Regions from separate parts of the Homo sapiens genome. Here region 1 is linked to region 2. The links come from fine-mapping of genetic effects on gene expression. A gene starts in region 2. The other region holds a variant in brackets. All regions are shown on one strand. Distances are from middle to middle. Region 1 overlaps ADK (adenosine kinase). Region 2 holds the start of AP3M1 (adaptor related protein complex 3 subunit mu 1).

Region 1 (11,424 bases), 100 kb before region 2:
CATGTTAATGACACAGAGACAATAAGTTTGCAGTGAATAATTCATAAACTATCAGCTCTCACTGTAATGTTCATTGCTAATCGTTTATTTACAGTACAAGTTACACTGCATTTTTTTCTATAGTTTAAATTTATTGCCTAAACAGAAATCATTTCATGTCAAAATCTAATTTACTATCAATAAATAATAATTTCAAGCATATATTGGCTTGTATAGTTGTATAATTTTTACTCATTATTCATAGTTATGATAATCAATAAACCACCATAAGAATGTCATATAGAAAGACTAAAGTATCTATAGATTATGTATAGATGATTATTCTAAATTAAATTTCAAAAACAATATGCTCAATTGATATAAAATTATAAATTGCTTTATTAACTCATATTTTTCATTTAAGTATTAATATCACCACACTCACTTTAAAACATACATATAGATTATTATGAAACTTTGAATATCAAAGTACCATTTAGATTTCCTTATTATGCAAATACTGACTATAAAATACAGTTGACCCTTGAATGAAGTGGGTTTGAACTGCGCAAGTCCACCTACAGGCTGAAATTTTTCAACCAAATGTGGATTGAAAATACAGAATTCACAGGATACGAAACTTGCGCATACAGAGAGCCAACTTTTCCTTTATGTAGGTTTCACAGCACCCACTGTGGGACTTAACATATTTGTAGACTTGGGTCCTGGAACCACCCGCCCATGTATACTGAAGGATGACTGTAATATCATGTAAAATATAAAGTTCAGTAACCTATAAAATTGCAGTTGTCTTCAATTTTTACCCATTTTTGTAATGGATTTAATATCACACTTTTATTTAACAAATTAAAGATAAGTCAATTTTAGTCTCTTTCAAAATGACTCTTAGTTGCAGTAACTCATTTTGGTTTACACATATTATGAGAACTTTTATGTTACTATGTTACCTAAGTTATTGTGCTTTCAAAAATTTCTCTAAATCAGAGAGGTAAAAAATTTTCTATAAATGTCTGTACTTCTACAATGATTCCTTCAAAAATACTGTTTTGATATATGGTTGCATCAATAAAAACACGTTAGGTTCATGTACCATTTATCAGGTAAGAACTGCAAAATATCAGTGGCTTAAAACAATAAGGTCATTTTCTTGCTTACACTAGCTGTTCATCATAAGTCATTTGAGGACTCCACCCCACATCTTTTCATCTCAGTACCCAAGATGATGGAGCAATCACCATCTCACATTTTACCAGTTATCATGGTAAATGGAAAGAGTAGTCTGGACAGTCTTGCACTGGTAATTAAATGCTCTGGCCTGTAAAAACATTATTTTACTTCTGCTCACAACTAAGCATAATTATCTGAGAAAGTTTACCCTTCAAAAAGTTTAAATCTTTACAATTTCAAAAAAAAAATGTTTACCTCACTAAGAAGGCCATGAAGATAGGTTACATAATGTTCACTAAAGACGAAGAGCATTCCAGGTTCCTTTTTGTATTAAATGACTATCAAATCATAACAATCAGTTCTTGCCAAATCTGCTAAACATATAACCAGGATAATGTTAAGTACTCTTTCAAAACTGCAAATTTGACCACATCACTTGCTTAAAATCCTCTAATCTTCTCAGCATGGCGCTCCATGAAATGATCCCTGACTGCCTTTCTGTCAACTCTGAATACTCAATAAAATTTACAAAATGCTCCAAGGGAGACAAAACTAATAAATATGCTGCACGCAGGCTTTCCTGCCTTTTCACATGTCAGAATGCTTTCTCTGCCACCTCCACTTGAAAGCTTCCTCTTCCTTCAACTAAGCTTAAGCCTATCGCCACTGTGAAGCTTTTCTTGACTCTGATTACAACACCCAAAGGATTTTGTACTCCCTCAACACTGATTCCAGATCTGCACTGTGACTGTTCGTTGACTACCCAGTTATGAGCTTCTCAAAGGCAGACACTATTATTTACAAATATGAGTCCCTGGTATGAGACATTTAGTGGCTAACAAATGTCTAGAAAATGACTAAAGTTCCACAGTGCCAAAGAATGGTCTTAAAGAACAGCAGTATGTTTTAGAAATGAAGAATACCTGTTCTGACTGTCCATGGAGAGATAACTGCAAAAGTAAGTTTGCTTAACAAATTCCTTTTAGTATCTAAATGCTAGAGCTAATTTTGTTGGTGGCAATTCTAATAAATTAACTTAAAGTTATAGGACATTGAACTAATTTTTCTTTCATTCATTCCCCAGACTTTTATTTATTCAACTCAGATGTACCAAATGCCAGGATCTATGAGAAATTCTAAGAATGGCATTCATGTTAGTGGAGCTGTTGTCATCATTATACATATTGGACTGTCAAATTATGCCCCCAGTTAATTGACAAGATAGACTCCTTGTGGCTCAAAGGTAAAAGCAGAACCAAGAGGCAATGACAGGGTAAGGGAGCAATTATACCCTGTGTCCTTAAAAGTGTTGCAAAACCTGTTTTTCTGCCACCAAGTCAAAGAACAGTTCCTTTTGGTGATCATTTGGAAATTCCCCAAATGATCACCAAAAGACCACCTGGTGCCAACTGACCAACCACCTGGAAACAACCAACTAAGACACACTGGTGATTTGGGGATTAAAGGTCATCTAATCAAGACTTTATTCCTTACTTCCTTGACCCCACCTCCCCTGTCCTACAATTTTTGCCTTTATAATTTCTAACTCTCCAACCCCCAACTAGGACCTCATTTTCATTTTACACCACAGGCTGCATATCCCCAACCTACTATTGTTTTCTATAGAAAAATAAAGCTGTCCTTTTTTCCTCCATGGATCTCATGGTCTTTTGTTACATGACAAAAATAGGCTGTTTAATATTTTACTCATCTAAATTTTTAATATCTGATGTTCACTTTGACCATCAACATAACAAGAAAATACTGTACAGCATAATTTTATATTAACACAATTCACTGTAGTTATTAAAAAGTTTGAACAATGATTATCCACTAGCCATAAAACTCTCAACAGTTTAATAGCAAATAAACAAAGGAAGGTATCACACTTGGCAAATACAAAATGACTATTTGTCCATTGTGTCTGTGCAACTAAAACAGATTTAGGTTCCCCATTGGTACAAAAGGAAAAACACACAAAAAAAGAAGGAGATTCCTTTTAAACACAGAGCTCTTTGCTCCAAACTTGTAACAATTTTTTTTTCTTTTTACATTCACTACACAAACTCTGTGATTAGATAAGAAAAGTAACAAGGGCTATTCTTTTTTTTTTAACTGTCAACTTTTTGAAGTGTGTTATTGAATAATATTTTTCAGGTATACAATTTTAATATGAAACATTTTAATCAAAAGCAATCTGACATTAAAATACATAATTTTCTTTTTAGAAGAAAAAATGAGGAAATAAAAAAAAGAGGCATATCTAGATCCAGCAACCGAACCTGAAAGGTAAATATTAAAAATACTGCATTTGGTGTTTTTGGTGAGCTAATTCCTTTTTTACAATTTGTGGGACTCTATTTAAGGAAAGGAATACAAAATTAGGTGTGAAGTAAATATCTGGAATGAGAAAATAAATTACAACTAAACACTAACTTTAAAAGGCTAACAAATGCCAAAAACATGAATTTCAAAAAGAAGAGCATATCTTTATTAATTGCCTAATCTATCTCTATAATGCTCTTATTTTCTTACATTTCTGGCTGCATTTCTTGATTTCCTCTTCATATAACAATTTTGCAACATTAAGAGAATAGAAAGATAATTTTATCTTTTTACTACTGTGTTTGATCAATTTTTAGTACTGACAGTGTAGGCCAGGCACGGTGTCTCACACCTGTAATCCCAGCACTTTGGGAGGCTGAGGCGGGCGGATCACTTGAGGTCAGCAGTTCGTGACCAGCCCGGCCAACATGGTGAAACCCCATCTCTACTAAAAATACAAAAATTTGTTAGGCATGATGGTGCGTGCCTGTAGTCTCAGCTGCTCAGGAGGCTGAGGCAAAAGAATCACCTGAACCTGGGAGGCAGAGGTTGCAGTGAGCAGAGATCACACCCCTGCACTCCAGCCTGGGTGACAGAGGAGACTCCATCTTAAAAAAAAAAAAAAAAAAAGGCAGTGTAGAGAGTTTATATCAGCTTTATAACTTCTTTATAACTTATTACTGATAATGTCATATACATTCTTAGGAATATTATCAAATTTACGAAAACCACAATCAAGTTCCAAGATTTAGAAAAATTTTCCAGACTAGTTTCTCACTCTAAACACTTAAACGATGTTTCTCTTCCTCTACCTCTACCACAAAGAACATATTTATAATGCTCTAAGACCCTTGCCCCTACTGAGTTAGGAGGCAGGACTTGACTCTAGAGACAGGTTCAGACACCCAATTAAATTGAGGACTAGCTGAAAGATGATTAGGCAGAAGAAGCTTTCCATCAGACACACCCACCAGTGTGCCATGTCAACACTGCTATGAGAACACCCAGGAGTTACCACCACTTTCCATGGCAATGACCCAATGACCCAAAAGTTACTATCCCTTCCCTAGAAATTTCTGCATAAACCACTCCTTAATCTGCATGTTATTAAAAAAGGGTATTAATAACTGCCCTGAACTGCTACTCTCTGCCTACGGGGTAGCCCTGCTCTGCAGGAGCAGTCAC[C/T]GAGCTATAACACCACCAGAGCTGTAACACTGCCTGTTCAATAAATCTATTTTCTTCTACCTCTGGCTTGCCCTTGAATTCTTTTCTGGGCAAAGCCAAGAACCCTCACGGGCTGAGCCCCACTTTGGGGCTCACCTGCCCTGCAAAACTACATCTATGTATCACAAGGCCAGGGAAGTAGACACAGTGGACAGTAATAACATTCCTGGAAGTAATGCCTACAAAATAACTGGACACATAAACAACTGCTAACCATATACTATCTCTAAATGTATCCTCTACTCAATTTTCCCTTAGCTCAGGCCACTCTAATGCCACCCAATATGAGGGTATGATACAGGGAAAGTCTAAGTGAAAAGGAATAGCAGTTTTAATGGATTAAATACCTAACTTTTGCAAATCTTACCCCGCCTCACCCAAAATATTATGTTAACACATTGCTTGAGATTCTTCCAGAGTCTTGGAAGGACCCTGAAACGTAGGTTAACTGTCTACAAACTAAATCCATTTCTATTTCCTAACCTAATCTGAACACTTACTTTCTATTCCTTTTACCTACAGAAACTGTCAGAATAATCAGACTCATTTCCTCAATGACACTTTGCTACCTTTAACATATATAAGATCTGTTTTCTAGAGCATGATCATCTCCAACTTCTACACCAATTAAATTAGGTGCAGTGACACAAAAATTGTCTTCTATTCCTGTTTTAATTGTGTCTCAACAGTAATGCAAGCCCTACAGTGCCTTTCTATTTACTTCAGACAAAGATAAACACTGCAGATCCCAGTTAGGTTTCTTTCAGTGATAAGTATCGTTTAAAAGAAAAAAACTGTTAGTAGCCTTAAAAAGTCCTTGTTTCACACAGCCTAATAAATTCCCTCTAATTTCATGTAAGACCTAGTCCTGAGGCACAATAGCTTTAGGAATGGGTAATTTAGAAGTTCAACAAGATCATTAAGGATCCAAGTTCTCACCATCTTTTCACTGTGCCATCCAGTGTTTTGGTTTTATCCTGACCTAGGCCCCAAATAATTCCAAGATAGCTCTCACAATTCCAAGAACCCATCTAGATAGAAACATCCAAAAATGAGGGGAGAGGAGGTGTTACCTTTCCAAGAAGCCCCTCCACCAAACCTCCCCTCATGTCTCATTGGCCACAAATGAGTTATTGGTCAGATATCAGTCCTATGTTCAGGTCTTAATTAATGACTAGCAAGAAAAATGGGATAATCATGAGTGGCCTAGACTATACAGAATTTACTCACATCACACGGTAAAGAGGTGAGTCGACAAAAAAAAAAAAAAAAAAAAAAGTATCTGCCACAAGGAAAACAGCAGTAATGAATGGCTGTGGAGTAAGCTTCTTATTAAGTAAATTGGATAGCTAATTTTGACATTAATTACAGACCTTAGCTATGACATAAATCTGATTACAGGAAAGGGCTAGATGATGTTTTAGATTCATTACAACTCTTATGTTCTACAAGACAGGCAAATAATATAGTGGTTAAAAGCTTGAGTTTTAATGTCAGATTGTCCTGGGTTTGAATACCCATCCACCACTTATTTGCTGTAACAATCTTGGTCAAGTTATCTTCCCTTTTCTGAAAATCCAGATAGTAATAATATTTAACTCATATTGCTAGGAGAATTAAATGGATGATGAATGCAAAATGCTTAGCATTTTACCTAAACTTCACAGGAAGTAATCAATAAATATTATCATCAGTCTATAACATATAAACTATAATTATTATAATTTTTGTACTACTAATTTAGAATTTGTGATAACTAAAACACAGGTTATTTCAAAACCAGAAAAATTATTGATTCTACCTCCAATATATGATAAATAACAAACTGAGGATTTGAGAGGTTTAATGACACACTGAACAGCTATCTCTTCCCCCTACTCCTCCTCCTTTCTCTTGAATAGGCATCTCCTCCACTTAGAATTTAAATGCCTCCAACATTCCCTTAGGTTTACTCCTGCCCTCAATATTACAAAACCAAATTCATTGCTTCCCTCAACCATATTGCTTTTCCTTTTGAAGTTAATAGTACCAGCATTTAATTATGCAGACACTAAACACAAAACTTCAAAATCTTTTTCAACGCCCTCTCTCCATATGGATCACTCACTAAATCCTGTCAGTTCTAACTCTGGACCAGGCATGGTGGCTCATGCTTGTAATCCTAGCAATTTGGGAGACTGAGATGGAAGAATCGCTTGAGCTCAGGATTTTAAGACCAGCCTGGGCAACATAATGAGACCTTGTCTCTACCAAAAATAAAAATAAAAATAAAAAATTGGCCAGCCATGGTGGCACACATCTGTAGCCCTAGCTGCAGTGAGCTGTGATCATGTCACTGCACTCCAGCATGGGTGACAGAGCAAGACCCTGTCTCAAAAAAATGAAGCAAAACAAAAATACCTCTGAATTTGATTTTTAATCCATCCCTGTGTTCTAAAGTCACTACTACTACTACCCTATAAGAGACCCTCATTATTTCATTCATATCTATTATGAAGTTTTCAAACTGGTATACCTGCCTTTCCATAGCCTCAACTTCTCACTACTTCATCCTGTATTCTATCAACTATCTTTGTAAACTGCAGACTAAGTATGTTTGCCTGCTGAAAAATCTTCCACAGGTCCCCAACTAACTGTAAAATAAAAAGCCAACTTTAACCTTGTATATAAAACTTTTCACAATTCGGCCTGAACCTACGTTGTAGCTTCTTCTTTTACCTCTCCCTCCATGACATACCCAGTGTTTTACCCAAACTACACAATATCTCACCATTCTCCAAACAGACCTTGCCTACTTCTGTGTGTTCATGAAGAACCCTCTATTTGGGGAATAGGAGTAACTTCTCCTTTGATCTCCCTATACCCGACTATTTCTACTCATCCTCAAATATTAGTTCTCTATGATAGCTTCTTGCATACCTCACAGCTAGAGAAAATTACTGTTCTTGCAGAATATTATTTGTAATTATATCATAGCCATCATCACACTATATAATAGCTAGTTACTGCCTGTCTATAACTCCAAATAGACTGAATTTTTTTCAGGGCCAGGTTGTATCTTACTCATCTCTGCATTTCTAGTACATAGAGTAAGCATTCAGTAACAACTGGTAAATGGATGAATAGGGAGAGAGTGGCGCAATAAGTCTTCAGAAGCTCTTGTACTTCACATATTACTAAAAATACTTATTGAATAGGAAATTTAAAGCTCAATTCTACATTCTCTATTAGAGTATAAACTATGAGTGCAGGAAAATTACTGTCTGGCACTGTATTCAGTGTCTAAAATAGGGCTTTACACATAGTATAAAACTAACAAATATTAGTTAAATGAATAAATACATGAATTGATAAATTGAAGAACTGAATGATCTGGTAATTTGCGTATGACAGGATAACGGGAAAACCCTTTCATTCATTTCTGGTTGAATTTCTCAACTATTTAAACATCACACATATCTGTGTATCTAAGAGCAAGATTCTACGATGCCACATATCTTATTTGGAAGAAGGTGATAATCTATCAATCAGTATTTATTGCTTCAAATTGGCTCATTTTACCATTCATTTCCTACTTAAGCCCTATAGTAATTGAACTTTGTAAGACCTATGTCAGGCCTTAAATATATGATGAACAAATAAAACTGTGTGTGTGTGTGTGTGTGTGTGTGTGTGTATGCATGTACATGCATATACAATAAAACAACATAACATCTCAATTTCTTTCTGAAAGTCTTAAGGATATAAACTATATACAGAGAAAAATAGAAGCATAGACACAGTGACACACGAATGCCCCACTCACAAATGAAAACAAAACAAATATTTTGCAATGATCCATTTACTTCTAGTGTTTTGGGCTTTCAACTCTATAGTCATAAAAAATGTTCAAAACTAATAGTAAGAACACTATTTTCCTCTAGCATGCCTAAAAAACATTAAAGAAAATAAGAAAAGCTAGAGCCTTCCTCCCACTAAATACTTTGTTAAATTAAGAAGAAATATGTTTTAGTGTAGTCATCATTTCAGTAATTATATTCCAAAGAACCCTATAACTTGTAAAACCAGCAACAACCGAAGAGAATTTCACACAAATTTTGGCCATGGAATACTTTATTGGAAGACATGAAAAATAGATAGTGGCAAAAAGCAGCAGAAAATATTTATAATCATAAAGCAATGAGAAAATATACACCAAAATATCATCAATTCATTTATGTCTTCCAGTGGGCTTTATCCTCCTTTCTAATGTTTATCATCCTTTTCTCTGCCAAATTTCTGCTACCAATCTATCATCTCTTCAAATGGTTTGCAATAAAATGAACAAACAAAACTCATCCTCCTTCAAGGAGAATTGATGTCAGTGATCATGGTGAGACCACAGATCCATAAAATCTTTAGGTTAACAGAGCAGCTGATATAAAAGTAGAATACATCTGCTAAACCAACTGCCTTTTTATACTTGTTTAAAAAGTTATTTTGAACAAGTATACTCAAACACTTAATAAAAGAATTTGAAGGCTGGGCACGGTGGATCATGCCTGTAGTCCCAGCACTTTGGGAGGCCAAGGCAGGCAAATCATGAGGTCAGTAGATCAAGACCACCCTGGCCAACATGATGAAACCCCGTCTCTACTAAAAATACAAAAAATTAGGTGTGGTGGCACGTGCCTGTAATCCCAGCTACTCGGGAGGCAAAGGCATGAGAATCGCTTGAACCCAGGAGGCGGAGGTGGCAGTGAGCTGAGATTGCACCACTGCACTCTAGCCTGGTGACAAGCGAGACTCCACCTCAAAAAAAAAAGCAATCTGAAAGGTCATGTAACCCAATTAACCCTCCATCTACTGATTCATTTGCTAGTACTCCTACTAACAGTCAATAATCTGGTCTATGCTTTAATGCCTCATAAGAAAGGGAACTCACTACTTCCAAACAAGCTGATTCTATTTTTGTATTTCTTTACTACTAGAAAGTTTTCCTTTATTGAGCAAAAATCACTCAGTCCATGTCTTCTACACGAAGGAAGCCCCTCAAAGGAAGAGGGATATTATGTATATCCTAATTATCTTTCTTTGAATTAAAATTACGCAGTTTCTTTATGACATAGTTTTAAATTCATTCAACAATTAAAAGGAGGGGGTTAGAATCTACCACCCCCACCATGAGGCTCAACCTGAGAAATAATACATATCCATCAAAAAAGCAGCATATGTGTAATTATTATCCTCTTGATAAAATTTTTAAAATTTTAAAACAGAACACTTGTTCTTCTGTAGGTGGGCTGCCATAAATGCCCAGGGAAGCTTGTAACCAATGTTTTGTTGTTGAAGAAGGGGGGAAAAAAAGGAAAAAAGACAGTAAAAGAGTCTCTAAAACACAAGAACCTATTTCTTTGCCCTCAACATTATTCTTTCTGACGCTAAGGTTACACTGTTTCATATATCAATTCCCTTTTTCTAGACATTTTTTGAGTTTAAAAAAACACCATTTTATTGTTGTTGAAAAAGTAGGTCAATATTCCTAATTTACTCATGTACTTAATAAAGTTAGTTAAAATATCAAATGAAGAAACTGTTAAAGGAGCTGATGGTTGGTATTAGGTTGAAGAATATCTAAACAGCAAAACTGCTAATAAAATATATCAGGCCAGGCAAGGTGGCTCATCCCAACATTTTGGGAGGTCAAGGCTAGCTGATCACTTAAGCCCAAGAGTTTGAGACCAGCCTGGGCAACAAAAAATACCCTTCTCTACAAAAAACACAAAAATTAGCCAGGCATGGTGGCACGTGCCTGTAGTCCCAGGTACTCAGGAGGCTGAGGTGGGAGGATCACTTGAGCCCAGGCAGTGAAGGCTGCAGTGAGCCATGACTGCACCACTGCACTCCAGCCCCCGAGCCTAGCTGACACAGCAAGACTCTGTCTCAAAAAAAAAAAAAAAAAAAAAAAACTTAAAAAAAAAAAAATCAAAAAAAGCCAGATGTCAGTGATCCAAGAATCAGCTAAGCCAAAAACTGGATGAGTGTACTTAACTAAACTAACCTCTCTGGGCTCATAGTATTCTCATCTATGAAATGAGGATAAAGAATTAGGATCATAAGTTCTCAGACACTTTCATCTCAGGACCACTTTACACTTTAAAAAGAGTATCGAGTAATTCAAGGAGCTTTAATATCTAGCCCTAGTTATCATATTAGAAGTTAAAATATAACTTTTTTAAATATTTATTATTTTAAGAATAAATTCATTAAATGTTAATGTAACATTTTATGAAAATAACTATTTCCAAACTAAAAAACATCTTAGTGACAAGAGAAGCACTGTTTTATAATCTTTGCAAATCTCTTTAATGTCTGGCTTATGAAGCCAAAATTATAGGCCACTGTTTTGAACAAAACTCCTACACTAGGCTCCAAAAGAAGACCAGACTAAAAATCAAAATGGAGTCACCCATGCTCACCAAACCCAAACTGAGTTGTTATCTTGACTTTCTAAAAAATCAGGAGAGACAGATAACAGCCTAATATCCCAAACAGGACAATTTTCAATATTCAATGCACATGATAATGAAGTATTCAATGGGCATGATAATGAAGTTTCCTCTGTTTTAATCCCTAATCTGAAGTAACCTGATATTAACCAGTCTTTCTATTGTCCTGTCTCCCCATCCAGACCTTACAAGAGAATTCACTTTGAAATGACCAATCTGC
Region 2 (11,294 bases):
CTGTAGCCTCTTAAGAGGCGATCGCTAAAGAAATGAACTTGGATGAGATTTCCAAAGGAGAGAAAAGAAAACTAAGTTGTCTTAAATATAAGTGATCATCATGGAACACCTTCATCTAGGGAGCAGTTCCCAAAAATGTTTCTCCACTTCTTTCATCACAAAATAGCTCGTCTGTAACACAGGAATCATTGCTCCTACCTCATAGGTCACTGGGAGGGTTAAAAGAGATAACATATATAGAGCACATAGTATAATGTCTAGCACTCAATTAACGTTCCCTTCTTTCCCCTAATCCCACGTGAAAACATGTCAGAGCCTGATTCTTTCTTTATAAGCAACTGTTATATGCTGAAAAGCAACCGAGCCTAGAAAAATAATAGATATTTGAGAAAGGCAGACTAGTCTTGTCAGATGCTCCCTCTAGAACAGATTTCTCAACCTCAACACCGTTGACGTATTTGGCCAGATAATTCTTTGTTGTGGGGGTTGTCCTATGTAGCATGTTTAGCAGCACCCCTGAATTCCATCCACTAGGTGCCAATAGCTCTCCCTACCAAAAATATCTTTCTAGACCACGCCAAATGTCCCCTGGAGGGCAAAATTTCCCCTGGTGGAGAATTATTATCCCAGAGCTGACCAAATTCTCACAAATCCCTAAATCTAAATATTTTTCCTGACATCTACAAATATATCTCATTATTTGTTCCCACTGATGCTGCACATTAAATTATGCAAAGTCTTTATAATCCATTCTCCTTAACCAAAACCAGTAGCAATCCCCTGTCAAGCAAGTCATCATAAATTCAGTGTAAATACTCAATGCATTATCACACTTTGAGTCTGAAAGCAAATTAATATAATAAAAGTAATAATAGCCGATCCTAAAATGTCTCCCCACAAAATTAGAGATTTGTCCCAGTACTCAAGTGTCTAATCTTTTAACTTCATGTCTACAGGTGGCACTAAATTCATATTGTATAAAGTGAATTTTAGTTGCCTAAGGAATGCTCTCACCACAGCCTCACAAAGCACCAGGACTGCAGGTATAAGAAAACATGCTCAGCTAGTTCCTATTTCTGTTCCTGTACTAATTGTTTTATTTGGGCTTCAATATCTTCAATTGTAAAATAGGCATAATTCTTGCCTTCCTTTGATCACAGAACTGTCCAACAAGATAATAAATAGGAAAACACAGTGAAAATGGATCAGCATTATATATAATAATTTTTATTAAGGAAAAATCTAAGGAAATCTAAGGGTTATATGTTCAGTAGGATGGTAGGGAAAAGTTGCATCTGTCTTCCAGTTTGGCGAAGGAGGTGCCTTATAAGGAAATACTCTAATAAAGGGCAGAGTAGGGAAAGCACATGCCTTGAACTCAGGTAGGTCTGATTCAAAAGCCGTTGCTTTTTATTCTGCATATAGTTGGAATATTTAAAATAAAAATAGAATATCCTGAGGGTTTTTATTTTAAAGTTTATGTTCTTGGTATAAGGTAGGCACACTAACCCTTTGAGGGTAGTAGGAATACATTAAAGGAACTGGCAAGGATTTGTTCACCCTCCATTCAAAGCAGCATGAACACACCACCAGGCCCCTAAGTGTCCTTTTCTTTTCAATTGTGAGTGATTCCTTCCTTTGGAGGTGAAGAAGAGTGATACTGGAAGAAATGGGATATGTCCTGTTTAATCAGGAGTGTCCTAATAGTTTTAAATCAGTTTGATATGTCTATTTTAAGATGGAAAAAAAAATCGCTGCCTTTCAGCGAACATTTCCAAATCATCAAAGACTGCCTGCTTCACTTTATACTTATTAGGAAGGGATATTTTAACAAATGACTCTTCATAAGTAAAAGTTGCAACATCAATCACATGTGAGGCAGGTGTTAGGGGCAGCACTGTCCCCGTTGCTGCCAAAAAGTGTAAATAAAAAAGAGAAATCAACCTTTCCTATCCATTCATCCAAATGCTGCCCCTGCAAAGCATCGGAGGGGTCTGGGTCCCTGGTAGAGGGTCCTCAAAGGTACGGGCTTTCAGAATGTGCACGAAAAGGAAGGTCAACGTGCCCTTCCGCAACACTCTGAAAAATCCCCAAGAATTCTGACTTTGCCCCAGTGTACAGCAGTTGCCGAGCCTCTTTCCCGCCATCCCCCGGGAAGAGAAGGCGGCCGCCTACAGACGCTGCTCCGGTCCGACCCTCCGGGGTCGCACCAGCCCAGCCTGGGCTTGCTCGCAGGTGGCGCGGTCAGCCAGCTCGGTCCCCCTGCGGGCCACGACTGGCGAAGGGCTGCTGGAGCCGGAGCTGCACCAGACAGGCGGGGACTCAGCCAAACGGAGAGAACGTCTGGCAAGGGGTCGCGGCCAAGCGGGCAGCTGGGGGAGGTCCTGCGTGTTGGCCCCAAGCTGGCAGTGAGAGACACCACCCAGCGTCGGGGCCGTGCAACCCCACGTGGGCCCTGGCTTGCTTGCAGCGCCGTCACCCTCCTCCCCAAGTCCGGCAGCGCTCACCTCAGCGCTTGCGGCGCCTCCACCTTCAGCTTTTTGGGCTTCGGCTCCTCCTCAGCAGCTGCCATCTTCGCGCTCCCACCCCACTTTGGCTCTACAGCCCACCTCTGCCATCCACTCTCTGGTCCCGCCCCCTCTTCGCATCACCGCTTTCTCTTCTCCAAATCCCGCCCCTCCAGACTCCGCCCATTCTGTGCCGCTGTCATCCACAATCATTGGCTCTATCCGTCGGCACCAACAGCGAATGCCCCGCCCATTCCTGACCCCGCCTCCCCTACCATGAGGGACCCCAGACTGCGTTAGGCAGCAGATGACCGCCTGAATCTAGATGGAGAGAAACCCACCATTTTTCTAGGCCCTGGATTATGTAGAAGATTTAGATACTAAGCCTCAAGAGACGTCTTTCCTCTCATTTACGGTCTTCCTGCATATTTAAAATTTCTAATACGGTAGACAGAGTCGGTGTCTTTGAAGCTGTTAATCAGGCAATTTCCTGGGCACTCCAGCTGCGGGTCCTCGCGGCCTTCTCGGCTTCTCCAGCTTCGGTAGGAGAGGATCCGGCGCCGAATCACTGACTGGCACAGGTGTTGGGGTGAGTGTGAGGGGCGGGAAATCTGTGGACTGGGGACAGCTCCAAAACCCGGGAGTAGGCTGAATAGCTGGGGCCCCCGACTCCGATCTGGGCTCTAGGAGCGTCTTTGGTGCTGTTGGCCCGGGCCTCGCTTCCCCCCCACTCCCGGCCTTCCGGGCTTTCTCGCCAGCAAGGCCAGAAGGGAGCGGTCCACCTGCAGCCCAGTGTTCTCAGGCGCCTGAGCCCCGGAGGTCAAGCTTACTGGGTTCCCCCTCTATAGTGAGCTGGAGTACAGACGGCAGGAATCTCAGTCCCAGGTTTCTGCTTTGGAGGACAAAACCCCAAACGGACCTGAGCAGACGTCCTGTTAGCGGGTGGTGCCTGGAAGAGCCTGGGGTGAGGAATGCAGTGAGAAGGGTGTTGCAGTTCTTCAGGAGAGAGGTAACGGGGTTCTAAGCTGAGCAGGTGGCAGTGAGTGTGGAAGAGTGACGGGCGATGTGGCTGTTTGTATTTGGTAGATTTGTTTGAACCTGAAACTTACAGCCTTATGTGTGATTAAGAAGATGGTGCCAGTGACAGGAGGAGGTATTTTATGGAGTTTGAGTTTTATCGAATTTGAAACAGTGGTTTACATGGAGATTGTAGAAAGACTTTAAAAAAAATTATGAGAATTAAGCCCGAAAGACTTTCAAGGTGAGACCCAAAACAGATGAAGTTTCATATAAAAGGGTAAGAAGTATTTTTGTTTAGGAGAAAGTTATCAATGACATAAAATGCTGCAATGGTCAGAGGAGGAAGCTGAAATCAGAATAGGTCGTTGGATTTTATAATTAGAAAGTCATTGAGCTGTTTGAGAGAGATGCTTTAATAGTAACTGAGGAAAGACTGCAAGTGTAGACCAATCCTTCATCATTTGGGGCATGAAGCAAGATTATTGAGAGTGGCAAGGTGGGGGAAAGTTTGGGGTTTGTTTTAAAGAATACAAGATATCTATTTGGGGGCAGGAAGCAAGCAACTATTTGAAGATTCAAGAAAAAGTCTTGTCTCCCAGAAGAGAAGGAAAGGAATGGGATCAAGTTACAAGTGAAAGGATTAATTTGGGAAAGACAGAGGGACACTTTCAATTGACACTATAGGAGAAGTGAAGTGAATGAGGTTAATGAAGAATTATCTTAATTTACGAATCTTGGCCAGGCGCGGTGGCTCACGCCTGTAATCTCAGCACTTTGGCAGGCTGAAGCGGGCGGATCACAAAGTCAGGAGTTCGAGACCAACCTGGCCAACATAGTGAAACCCTGTCTCTACTAAAAATACAAAAATTAGCCAGGTGTGGTGGCACACGCCTGTAGTCCCAGCTACTTGGTAGGCTGAGGCAGGAGAATCCCTTGAACCCGGGAGGCGGAAGTTGCAGTAAGCTGAGACCTCACCACTGCACTCCACCCTGAGCGACAGAGCGAGACTCTGCCTCGAAAAAAAAAAAAAAAAAAAAAAAAAAAAAAAAAAAAAAACCTTACGTATCTTTAGGAAAGCTCTCTTTGCAACAAGATTATATTTTCTTACTTAATCTTATGATTTTTATTTCTAACCATTTAATATAATATACGGCCAGGCACGGTAGGGCTCATGCCTGTAATCCCAGCACTTTGAGAGGCTGAGGTGGGTGGATCACGAGGTCAAGAGATCGAGACCATCCTGGCAAATATGGAGAAACCCCGTCACTACTAAAAATATAAAAATTATCTGGGCGTGGTGGCACGTGCCTGTAGTCCCAGCTACTCGGGAGGTTGAGGCAGGAGAATCGCTTGAACCCAGGAAGCGGAGGTTGTGGTAAGCTGAGATTGCGCCACTGCACTCCAGCCTGGCAATAGAGTAAGACTCCGTCTCAAAAAAAAAAAAAACAAACCAATATACTATGGGCAGATGGAGTGCGGTGGCTCACGCCTGTAATCCTAGCACTTTGGGTGGGTGAGGCGGGAAAATCACTTGAGGCCAGGAGCTGGAAATCAGCCTGGGCAACATAGCGAGACTCCATCTCTACAAAAAATTTAAACATTAGCCAGGCTTTGTGGCATGTGGTTGTAGTCCTAGCTACTCAGGAGGTAGAGGCAGAATGAGGCAGAAGGATCACTTGAGCCCAGGAGTTCAAAGTTACAGTGAGCTATGATTGGTCCACTGCACTTCAGCCTGGGCAACAAAACAAGACCCTATCTCTTAAAAAAAAATACATATACACATACGCTATGGGAGTTCTTTGCAGATTTAAATATTTTTAAGTAGCTCAGTACTGTGTCAATTCATGAGTAGCACATGGTATTTACAGAGAAGAGGACTTCTCTCTCCCTTTGGAAATGACCTCTCTCCCATTACACAGAGAAGGAGAGCCATCATCTGCCTGCAGTCAAGTATACAAACCTTCCCTTCAATCTGAAGAGTAGAAAGTGTTCCTTCTCCTTAGAGAAGGCAAACCCTTTGACCTAGTCTCTCAGTAGCATCCTCTCCTGCTATGTCAGGGTCCTCTTTCCGTTTTTCCCTCTCTCCTATGTCAGCTTTTCCCCCTCTATTCACACCTTTCCTTCAGCATTTGAATGTATTCTTCCTTCACTTTATGAACTGCTGCATTTATTTTCCTGTCTTTTCATCCTCTTCACAGCTAGACTTCTTGAATCTACTCTACATATCTCTATTTTTTTACACTTCTTGCTATTTATTTCCCAGCCCACTGCAATGTCTTATTTCTAGCATTCCACTGAACTACCACCAAAACTATTTTTTTTTTCTGAGATGGAGTCTTGCTCTTGTCGCCCAGGCTGGAGTGCAATGGCAATCTCGGCTCACTGCAACCTCCGCCTCCAGAGTTCAAGTGATTCTTCCGCCTCAGCCTCCCGAGTAGCTGGGATTACAGGCGCCTACCACCATGCCCAGCTAACTTTTGTATTTTTAGTAGAGACAGGGTTTCGCCATGTTGGCCAGGCTGGTCTCGAACTCCTGACCTCGTGATCTGCCCGCCTCAGCCTCCCAAAGTGCTGGGATTACAGGTGTGAGCCACCGCACCCAGCCCACCAAAACTACCTTTACCAAGATCACCAGTGTCCTCTGTGTGTTAAATCATGCATTCTCAAAGCAGATAAAAACTGCTTCTTGTGAGGTGAAAAAAATATAATACTCTTTTTATGTGTAAAGCACAAATACAATACATAAACAGAGAATATTCTGTGGTATTAAAATTTTATGGTGATATTAATTAGCTTCATTTAATTATTCCACATTTCATAAATCATAACATCTGGTACCCCTAAATATATACAACTATAATTTGTCAATTTACAGTTGAAAAAGAAAGAATAATAAAAAGTTTTATGGGTGAGGAATTTGATTGGCAGGGTGGTGAGAAGATGGAGTCTAAAAGGGCTCCTTAGCAGGCATTAAGGAAAAGAAAGTTTAAAAAACACTCTTAAATCAACAGACATTTTCAATTCTTTTTTGTTGTTGTTGAGATGGAGTCTCGCTCTGTCATCCAGGCTAGAGTGCAGTGGCGCCATCTCGGCTCACTGCAGCCTCCACCTCCCGGGTTCAAGCGATTCTCCTGCCTCAGCCTCCAGAGCAGCCGGGATTACAGGCACCCACCACCACACCCAGCTAATTTGTTGGTATTTTTAGTGGAGATGGGATTTCACCATGTTGGCCAGGCTGGTCTCGAACTCCCGAGCTCAGGTGATACTCCCACTTTGGCCTCCCAAAGTGCTGGGATTATAGGTGTGAGCACCACGCCCAGCTGACATTTTCAATTCTCGTAGCTTAACCTCTTTGTGCCATGTAACAGTATTTACCACTCCATTCTTCTGGAAATACACTAATAAGCTATAGTTACTAAAAACCACCCTGTTTTTTTTTTTTTCTTAGGACTCTTCAGTCACATCTTGGTCATTCTTTAGGTCCACTTCCTTGACCCACCTCCTACTCAAATGTTGGAGTTCCTGCCATAAGCTCTCTTCATACTATGCACATTCTTTCTTTTGTTTCAATTCTCCTTTTGATTAATTCCCATTAACAAAAAATCCTGATTACTTACAATTCTGATTCCAATCTGGCTTCTCTAAAGCACCAGAAGGGTATATATAATAGTTTTTTGAATATATTTATTTGGGTCAGATGTATCCAGAATTGGTCAAATTACACAGGACCAGGCCAAGTGACACATCTCTCTCATCTCCACACACCCCCTCCTCCAAGCCTAAATGTTTTTTAGCACAAAACCTAAATGTTTCTCTTATCTTTTCACTGTACCCCATCCTCATAGTCAAGACTCTAGACCAGGCCATCACCACTCATCTCCCAACTGGTGTCACAGTGTTCAGTTACCGATTATCCAGTTTCCGCAGTGTAATTAGTATGATCTTTCTAAAAATGTAAATCGGATTGCATGATTAATTAAAAAAATTATAAAATGACTTTACATTGCACTAAGAATAAAGTCCAAACTCCTTAACAAGTTTAGCATGCTCCATGAACCAATCAGTCTCTGCTTACCTCCTTGTCCAGTTTCATCTCCCCTCTTCCCTCCACCTTCCATATTTGCTAAATTTATACTGGATTTATTTGTCTTGTGTTCTCTCTCACCTCTAAGCCTTGTAGATTCCCACAGCACACTATATTTCCTGTATCATCGTAGGAATTACATCTTAACTGTATTAAGTTGTCTTCTCTGCTCATCTCTAAATGCTGTGAGTATAGGAACTCTAATTTTGTTTGTTCTTATATACCCAGTGCCTCAAAACTCTGTGTTGAATGAATATGTGGTCAAGATATTGGCTGAGAATCAGAAGAGTAGATGCTTTTCTGGTCTCATTCTCTCAAGTTCAGTATAGGCCCTTCTGTGCCTCCATCATATTATATATAGAAGGAATACATTTTTGTTTTTAGACACTGTCTTCCAAGAATATTTTGACTATTGTAAATGCATTGCTTGTGAATTACCCAGGATGATTATAAAATGTTTAGTAAAAAGGATTTATGATGTATTTAAGCTGCAGTCAAAGCTCTGGTGGGTCTGCCTCTGAACACAGTTTCTTCTAGTGGCTTTTAAATAAGCTGGGAGAATTCTGTTTTATGACTCAAAAGCCACTAGGAACAAAAAGATGGTTGTGGTAATAATGAGTGTGTAGTTTTCTCAGAAAGTTTATGAAAATAATAATTAAAAAAATAACTGCAGCTACCAAAAGGACGATAAATAAAGAAACAGGCTAATTTACACTGCAACATGGTATTATTTAATTGTTATATGCATTAGACCTTGGTCATAATATGGATAGAAGAAGTAAGCTCTCTTTTCCTATTATAGAAGGTTAAGATGGGTTTTAAAGCTAAGCACAGTCGAGAACTTACAAGTGTTATGCTTTCATCTCAGCACTAAGGATAACAACAATAAATCTAGGAGGCTGGTTTAACTTTCTGTATTCTGAGACCTGAACTACTGCCAATAAAAACAACTTCGGTGGAAACTTTCCTGGAAAGAATTTTTCACCAGCTTAAGAGGATGAGTAGAGATCTGGCCCTAAAATAAAGTAACTACAAAATCACTTACTTTCAAAACAAGCAACTCTTTCAGAGTGTATTGTGGCAAAGGAGCACTATAAATCCTTGTGAACTATATTTTCGATAGGATGAATGATTTTAGATAACCTGTGTCGGTGCTTTTAAATATAACTTCCACTCTAAATAATTTATTAAACTTCCTCAGCATAACAACTAGAATGTCTTTTGCCTCCTAACTAAACAAGAAATGTCTTTTACCTCCTCCTCTTAAATCATAAGCTAGGCTGGGTGCAGTGGCTCATGCCTGTAATCTCAGCACTTTGGGAGGCTGAGGCGGGCGGATCACGAGGTCAGGAGTTCGAGACCAGCCTGGCCAACATGGTGAAACCCCATCTCTACTAAAAATACAAAAAATTAGCTGGGCATGGTGGCGCATGCCTGTAATCCTAGCTACTCGGGAGGCTGAGGCAGGAGAATCGCTTGAACCCAGCAGGCGGAGGTTGTGGTAAGAGGAAATCGTGCCATTGCACTCCAGCCTGGGCAATAGAGCAAGACTCCGTCTCAAAAAAAAAAAAAAATCATAAGCTAAAGCAGCACATTCATGCACTGTTCAATATATTAACTACTAACCATATATGGTTATTTAAATTTAAATTAATTAAAATTAAAACTTCAGGCTAGGCTTGGTGGCTCACACCTGTAATCCCAGAACTTTGGGAGATCAAGGTGGGAAGATCACTTGAGCCCAGGAGTCCAGGATCAGCCTGGGCAATATAGGCAGACTTTGTCTCTACAAAACAAAAATTTGAAACTCAGCTGTGTGTGGTGATGCACGCCTGTAAGCCCAGCTACTCAGGAGACTGAAGTGGGAGGATCGCTTGGGCTCTGGAGGTGGGCGTTGGAGTGAGCCAAGATGACGCAGCTGCACTCCAGCCTGGGCAACAGAGCGAGACCCTATCTCAAAAAAAAAATAAAAATAAAAAAGCCGGGCATGGTGGCTCACGCCTGTAATCCCAGCACTTTGGGAGGCCGAGGCGGGTGGATCATGAGGTCCGGAGATCGAGACCATCCTGGCTAACATGGTGAAACCCCATCTCTACTAAAAATACAAAAAATTAGCCAGGCGTGGTGGCGGGCTCCTGTAGTCCCAGCTACTCGGGAGGCTGAGGCAGGAGAATGGTGTGAACCTGGGAGGCGGAGCTTGCAGTGAGCAGAGATCACGCCATTGCGCTCCTGTCTGGGAGACAGAGCAAGACTCCGTCTCAAAAAAAAATTAATTAAAATTTCAAAAAAATTAAAACTTCAGTATTGGGTACATTAGCCACATTTCAAGTGCTCAATAGCCATGGGTGTAGTGGCTACCATATTAGCACAGATAAAGGACATTTCCATCATTGCAGAAAGCCCTGTTGGACAGTGCTGTATTAGAACGTGTTCCTAATAATTAGTCTCTACAAGGCAGATAAGAGCAGGAGCTCAGAATTCAGCTGGATTTAGGTTTGAATCCTAGCTTACTGCGTGATCTTAGGTAATTGACCTAACTTTTCTGAGATGACATTGTCTTATCTGTAAAATGGGGATAATAGTAGTATTTATGGTGTAGCATTGTGAAAATAAGATGAGATAAAGTGTCTAGCATAGTGTCTGGCCCATAATAAGTACTCAATACATTTTAGATAGTATTAATTCATTTATTATTCATTATCTTTAATGAATAAAACACTTTGAATGGGGACTGAGTACAGTAGCTTCACTTTGGGAGGCGAAGGCAGGCGGATCACTTGAGGCCAACATGGTGAAACCCCATTTCTACTAAAAACAGAAAAACTAGCTGGGCATGGTGGTGCACACCTGTAATCCCAGCTACTGAGGAGGCTGAGGCACGAGAATTGCTTGCCCATGGGAGACGGAGGTTGCAGTCAGCAGAGATCACACCACTGCACTCCAGCCTGGGTGACAGTGGGAGACTCTGCTCAAACAAACAAACAAGCTTTGTTCCCAAGTAGCTGGGATTACAGGCGCACGCCACCATGCCCGGCTAATTTTTGTATTTTTAGTAGAGACAGGGTTTTGCCATGCTGGCCAGGATGGCCTTGAACTCCTGACCTCAGGTAATCCACCAGTCTTGGCCTCCCAAAGTGCTGGGATTACAGGCGTGAGCCACTGTGCCTGGCCAAAAATAACCACATTGAATGGGGCCAAAAGATTAATTTTTGCAAAGAATGCTGTGTTCCATATGTGACTCACCTGAAGTGCCCAAATCTGAGTCTGCTTGTGGATTACAGTGCTCCACTTGAAGTCATACATTATATATTTCAGATGCTGATTTTCTTCCAAGAAAAAGGTGTAATAATAAAAATTTAGTTGCAGATCTTATGGTTGGATATTCCTGTTTCATTTAAAAAATGAAAATGAAAAGTTTATCAGCTAAAGATTATAGTTAAAATCAGCAGGTTCTATATAGCAAGTCTAAGTATTCTAATGGCACTTATATTAATACCCAGACAGAAATATAAGACACAAAGCAAGCCTACTAAGCAAAGCATCTGACTAGATAAAGTAGAAAAATTTGGCAGGTTCCAACCCTGAGGTGTCAGAGTTTATTGCTAATAACTCAAGTTGATTTCTTGGCTAAACAGAGGGCTTTAAACAAAGAAATTTTTTGGTTCTAATTAAACAGGAACCCT

What was found. PIP is the estimated chance that this variant, and not a neighbour inherited with it, causes the effect.
Region 1: its variant is fine-mapped to the expression of AP3M1 in whole blood (TOPMed, PIP 0.91).

What each region holds. Positions count from the first base shown.
Region 1 is chr10:74,246,465-74,257,888 of GRCh38, reverse strand. The region is part of intron 3 of ADK (adenosine kinase); the gene reads right to left. LOC124902456 (a long non-coding RNA gene) reads right to left here. Exons shown (of 2, transcript XR_007062198.1): 2 at 3,012-11,424. Among named protein-coding and RNA genes, the nearest start is that of ADK, 100 kb to the right of the region's middle. The variant C/T (reference allele first, on the strand shown) is at 4,678.
Region 2 is chr10:74,142,557-74,153,850 of GRCh38, reverse strand. It overlaps AP3M1 (adaptor related protein complex 3 subunit mu 1), which reads left to right and starts at 3,023. Exons shown (of 9, transcript NM_012095.6): 1 at 3,023-3,096. It overlaps ADK (adenosine kinase), which reads right to left and starts at 2,630. Exons shown (of 11, transcript NM_006721.4): 1 at 2,508-2,630. The coding sequence starts at 2,572. RefSeq lists enhancers at 2,280-2,459, 2,870-3,099.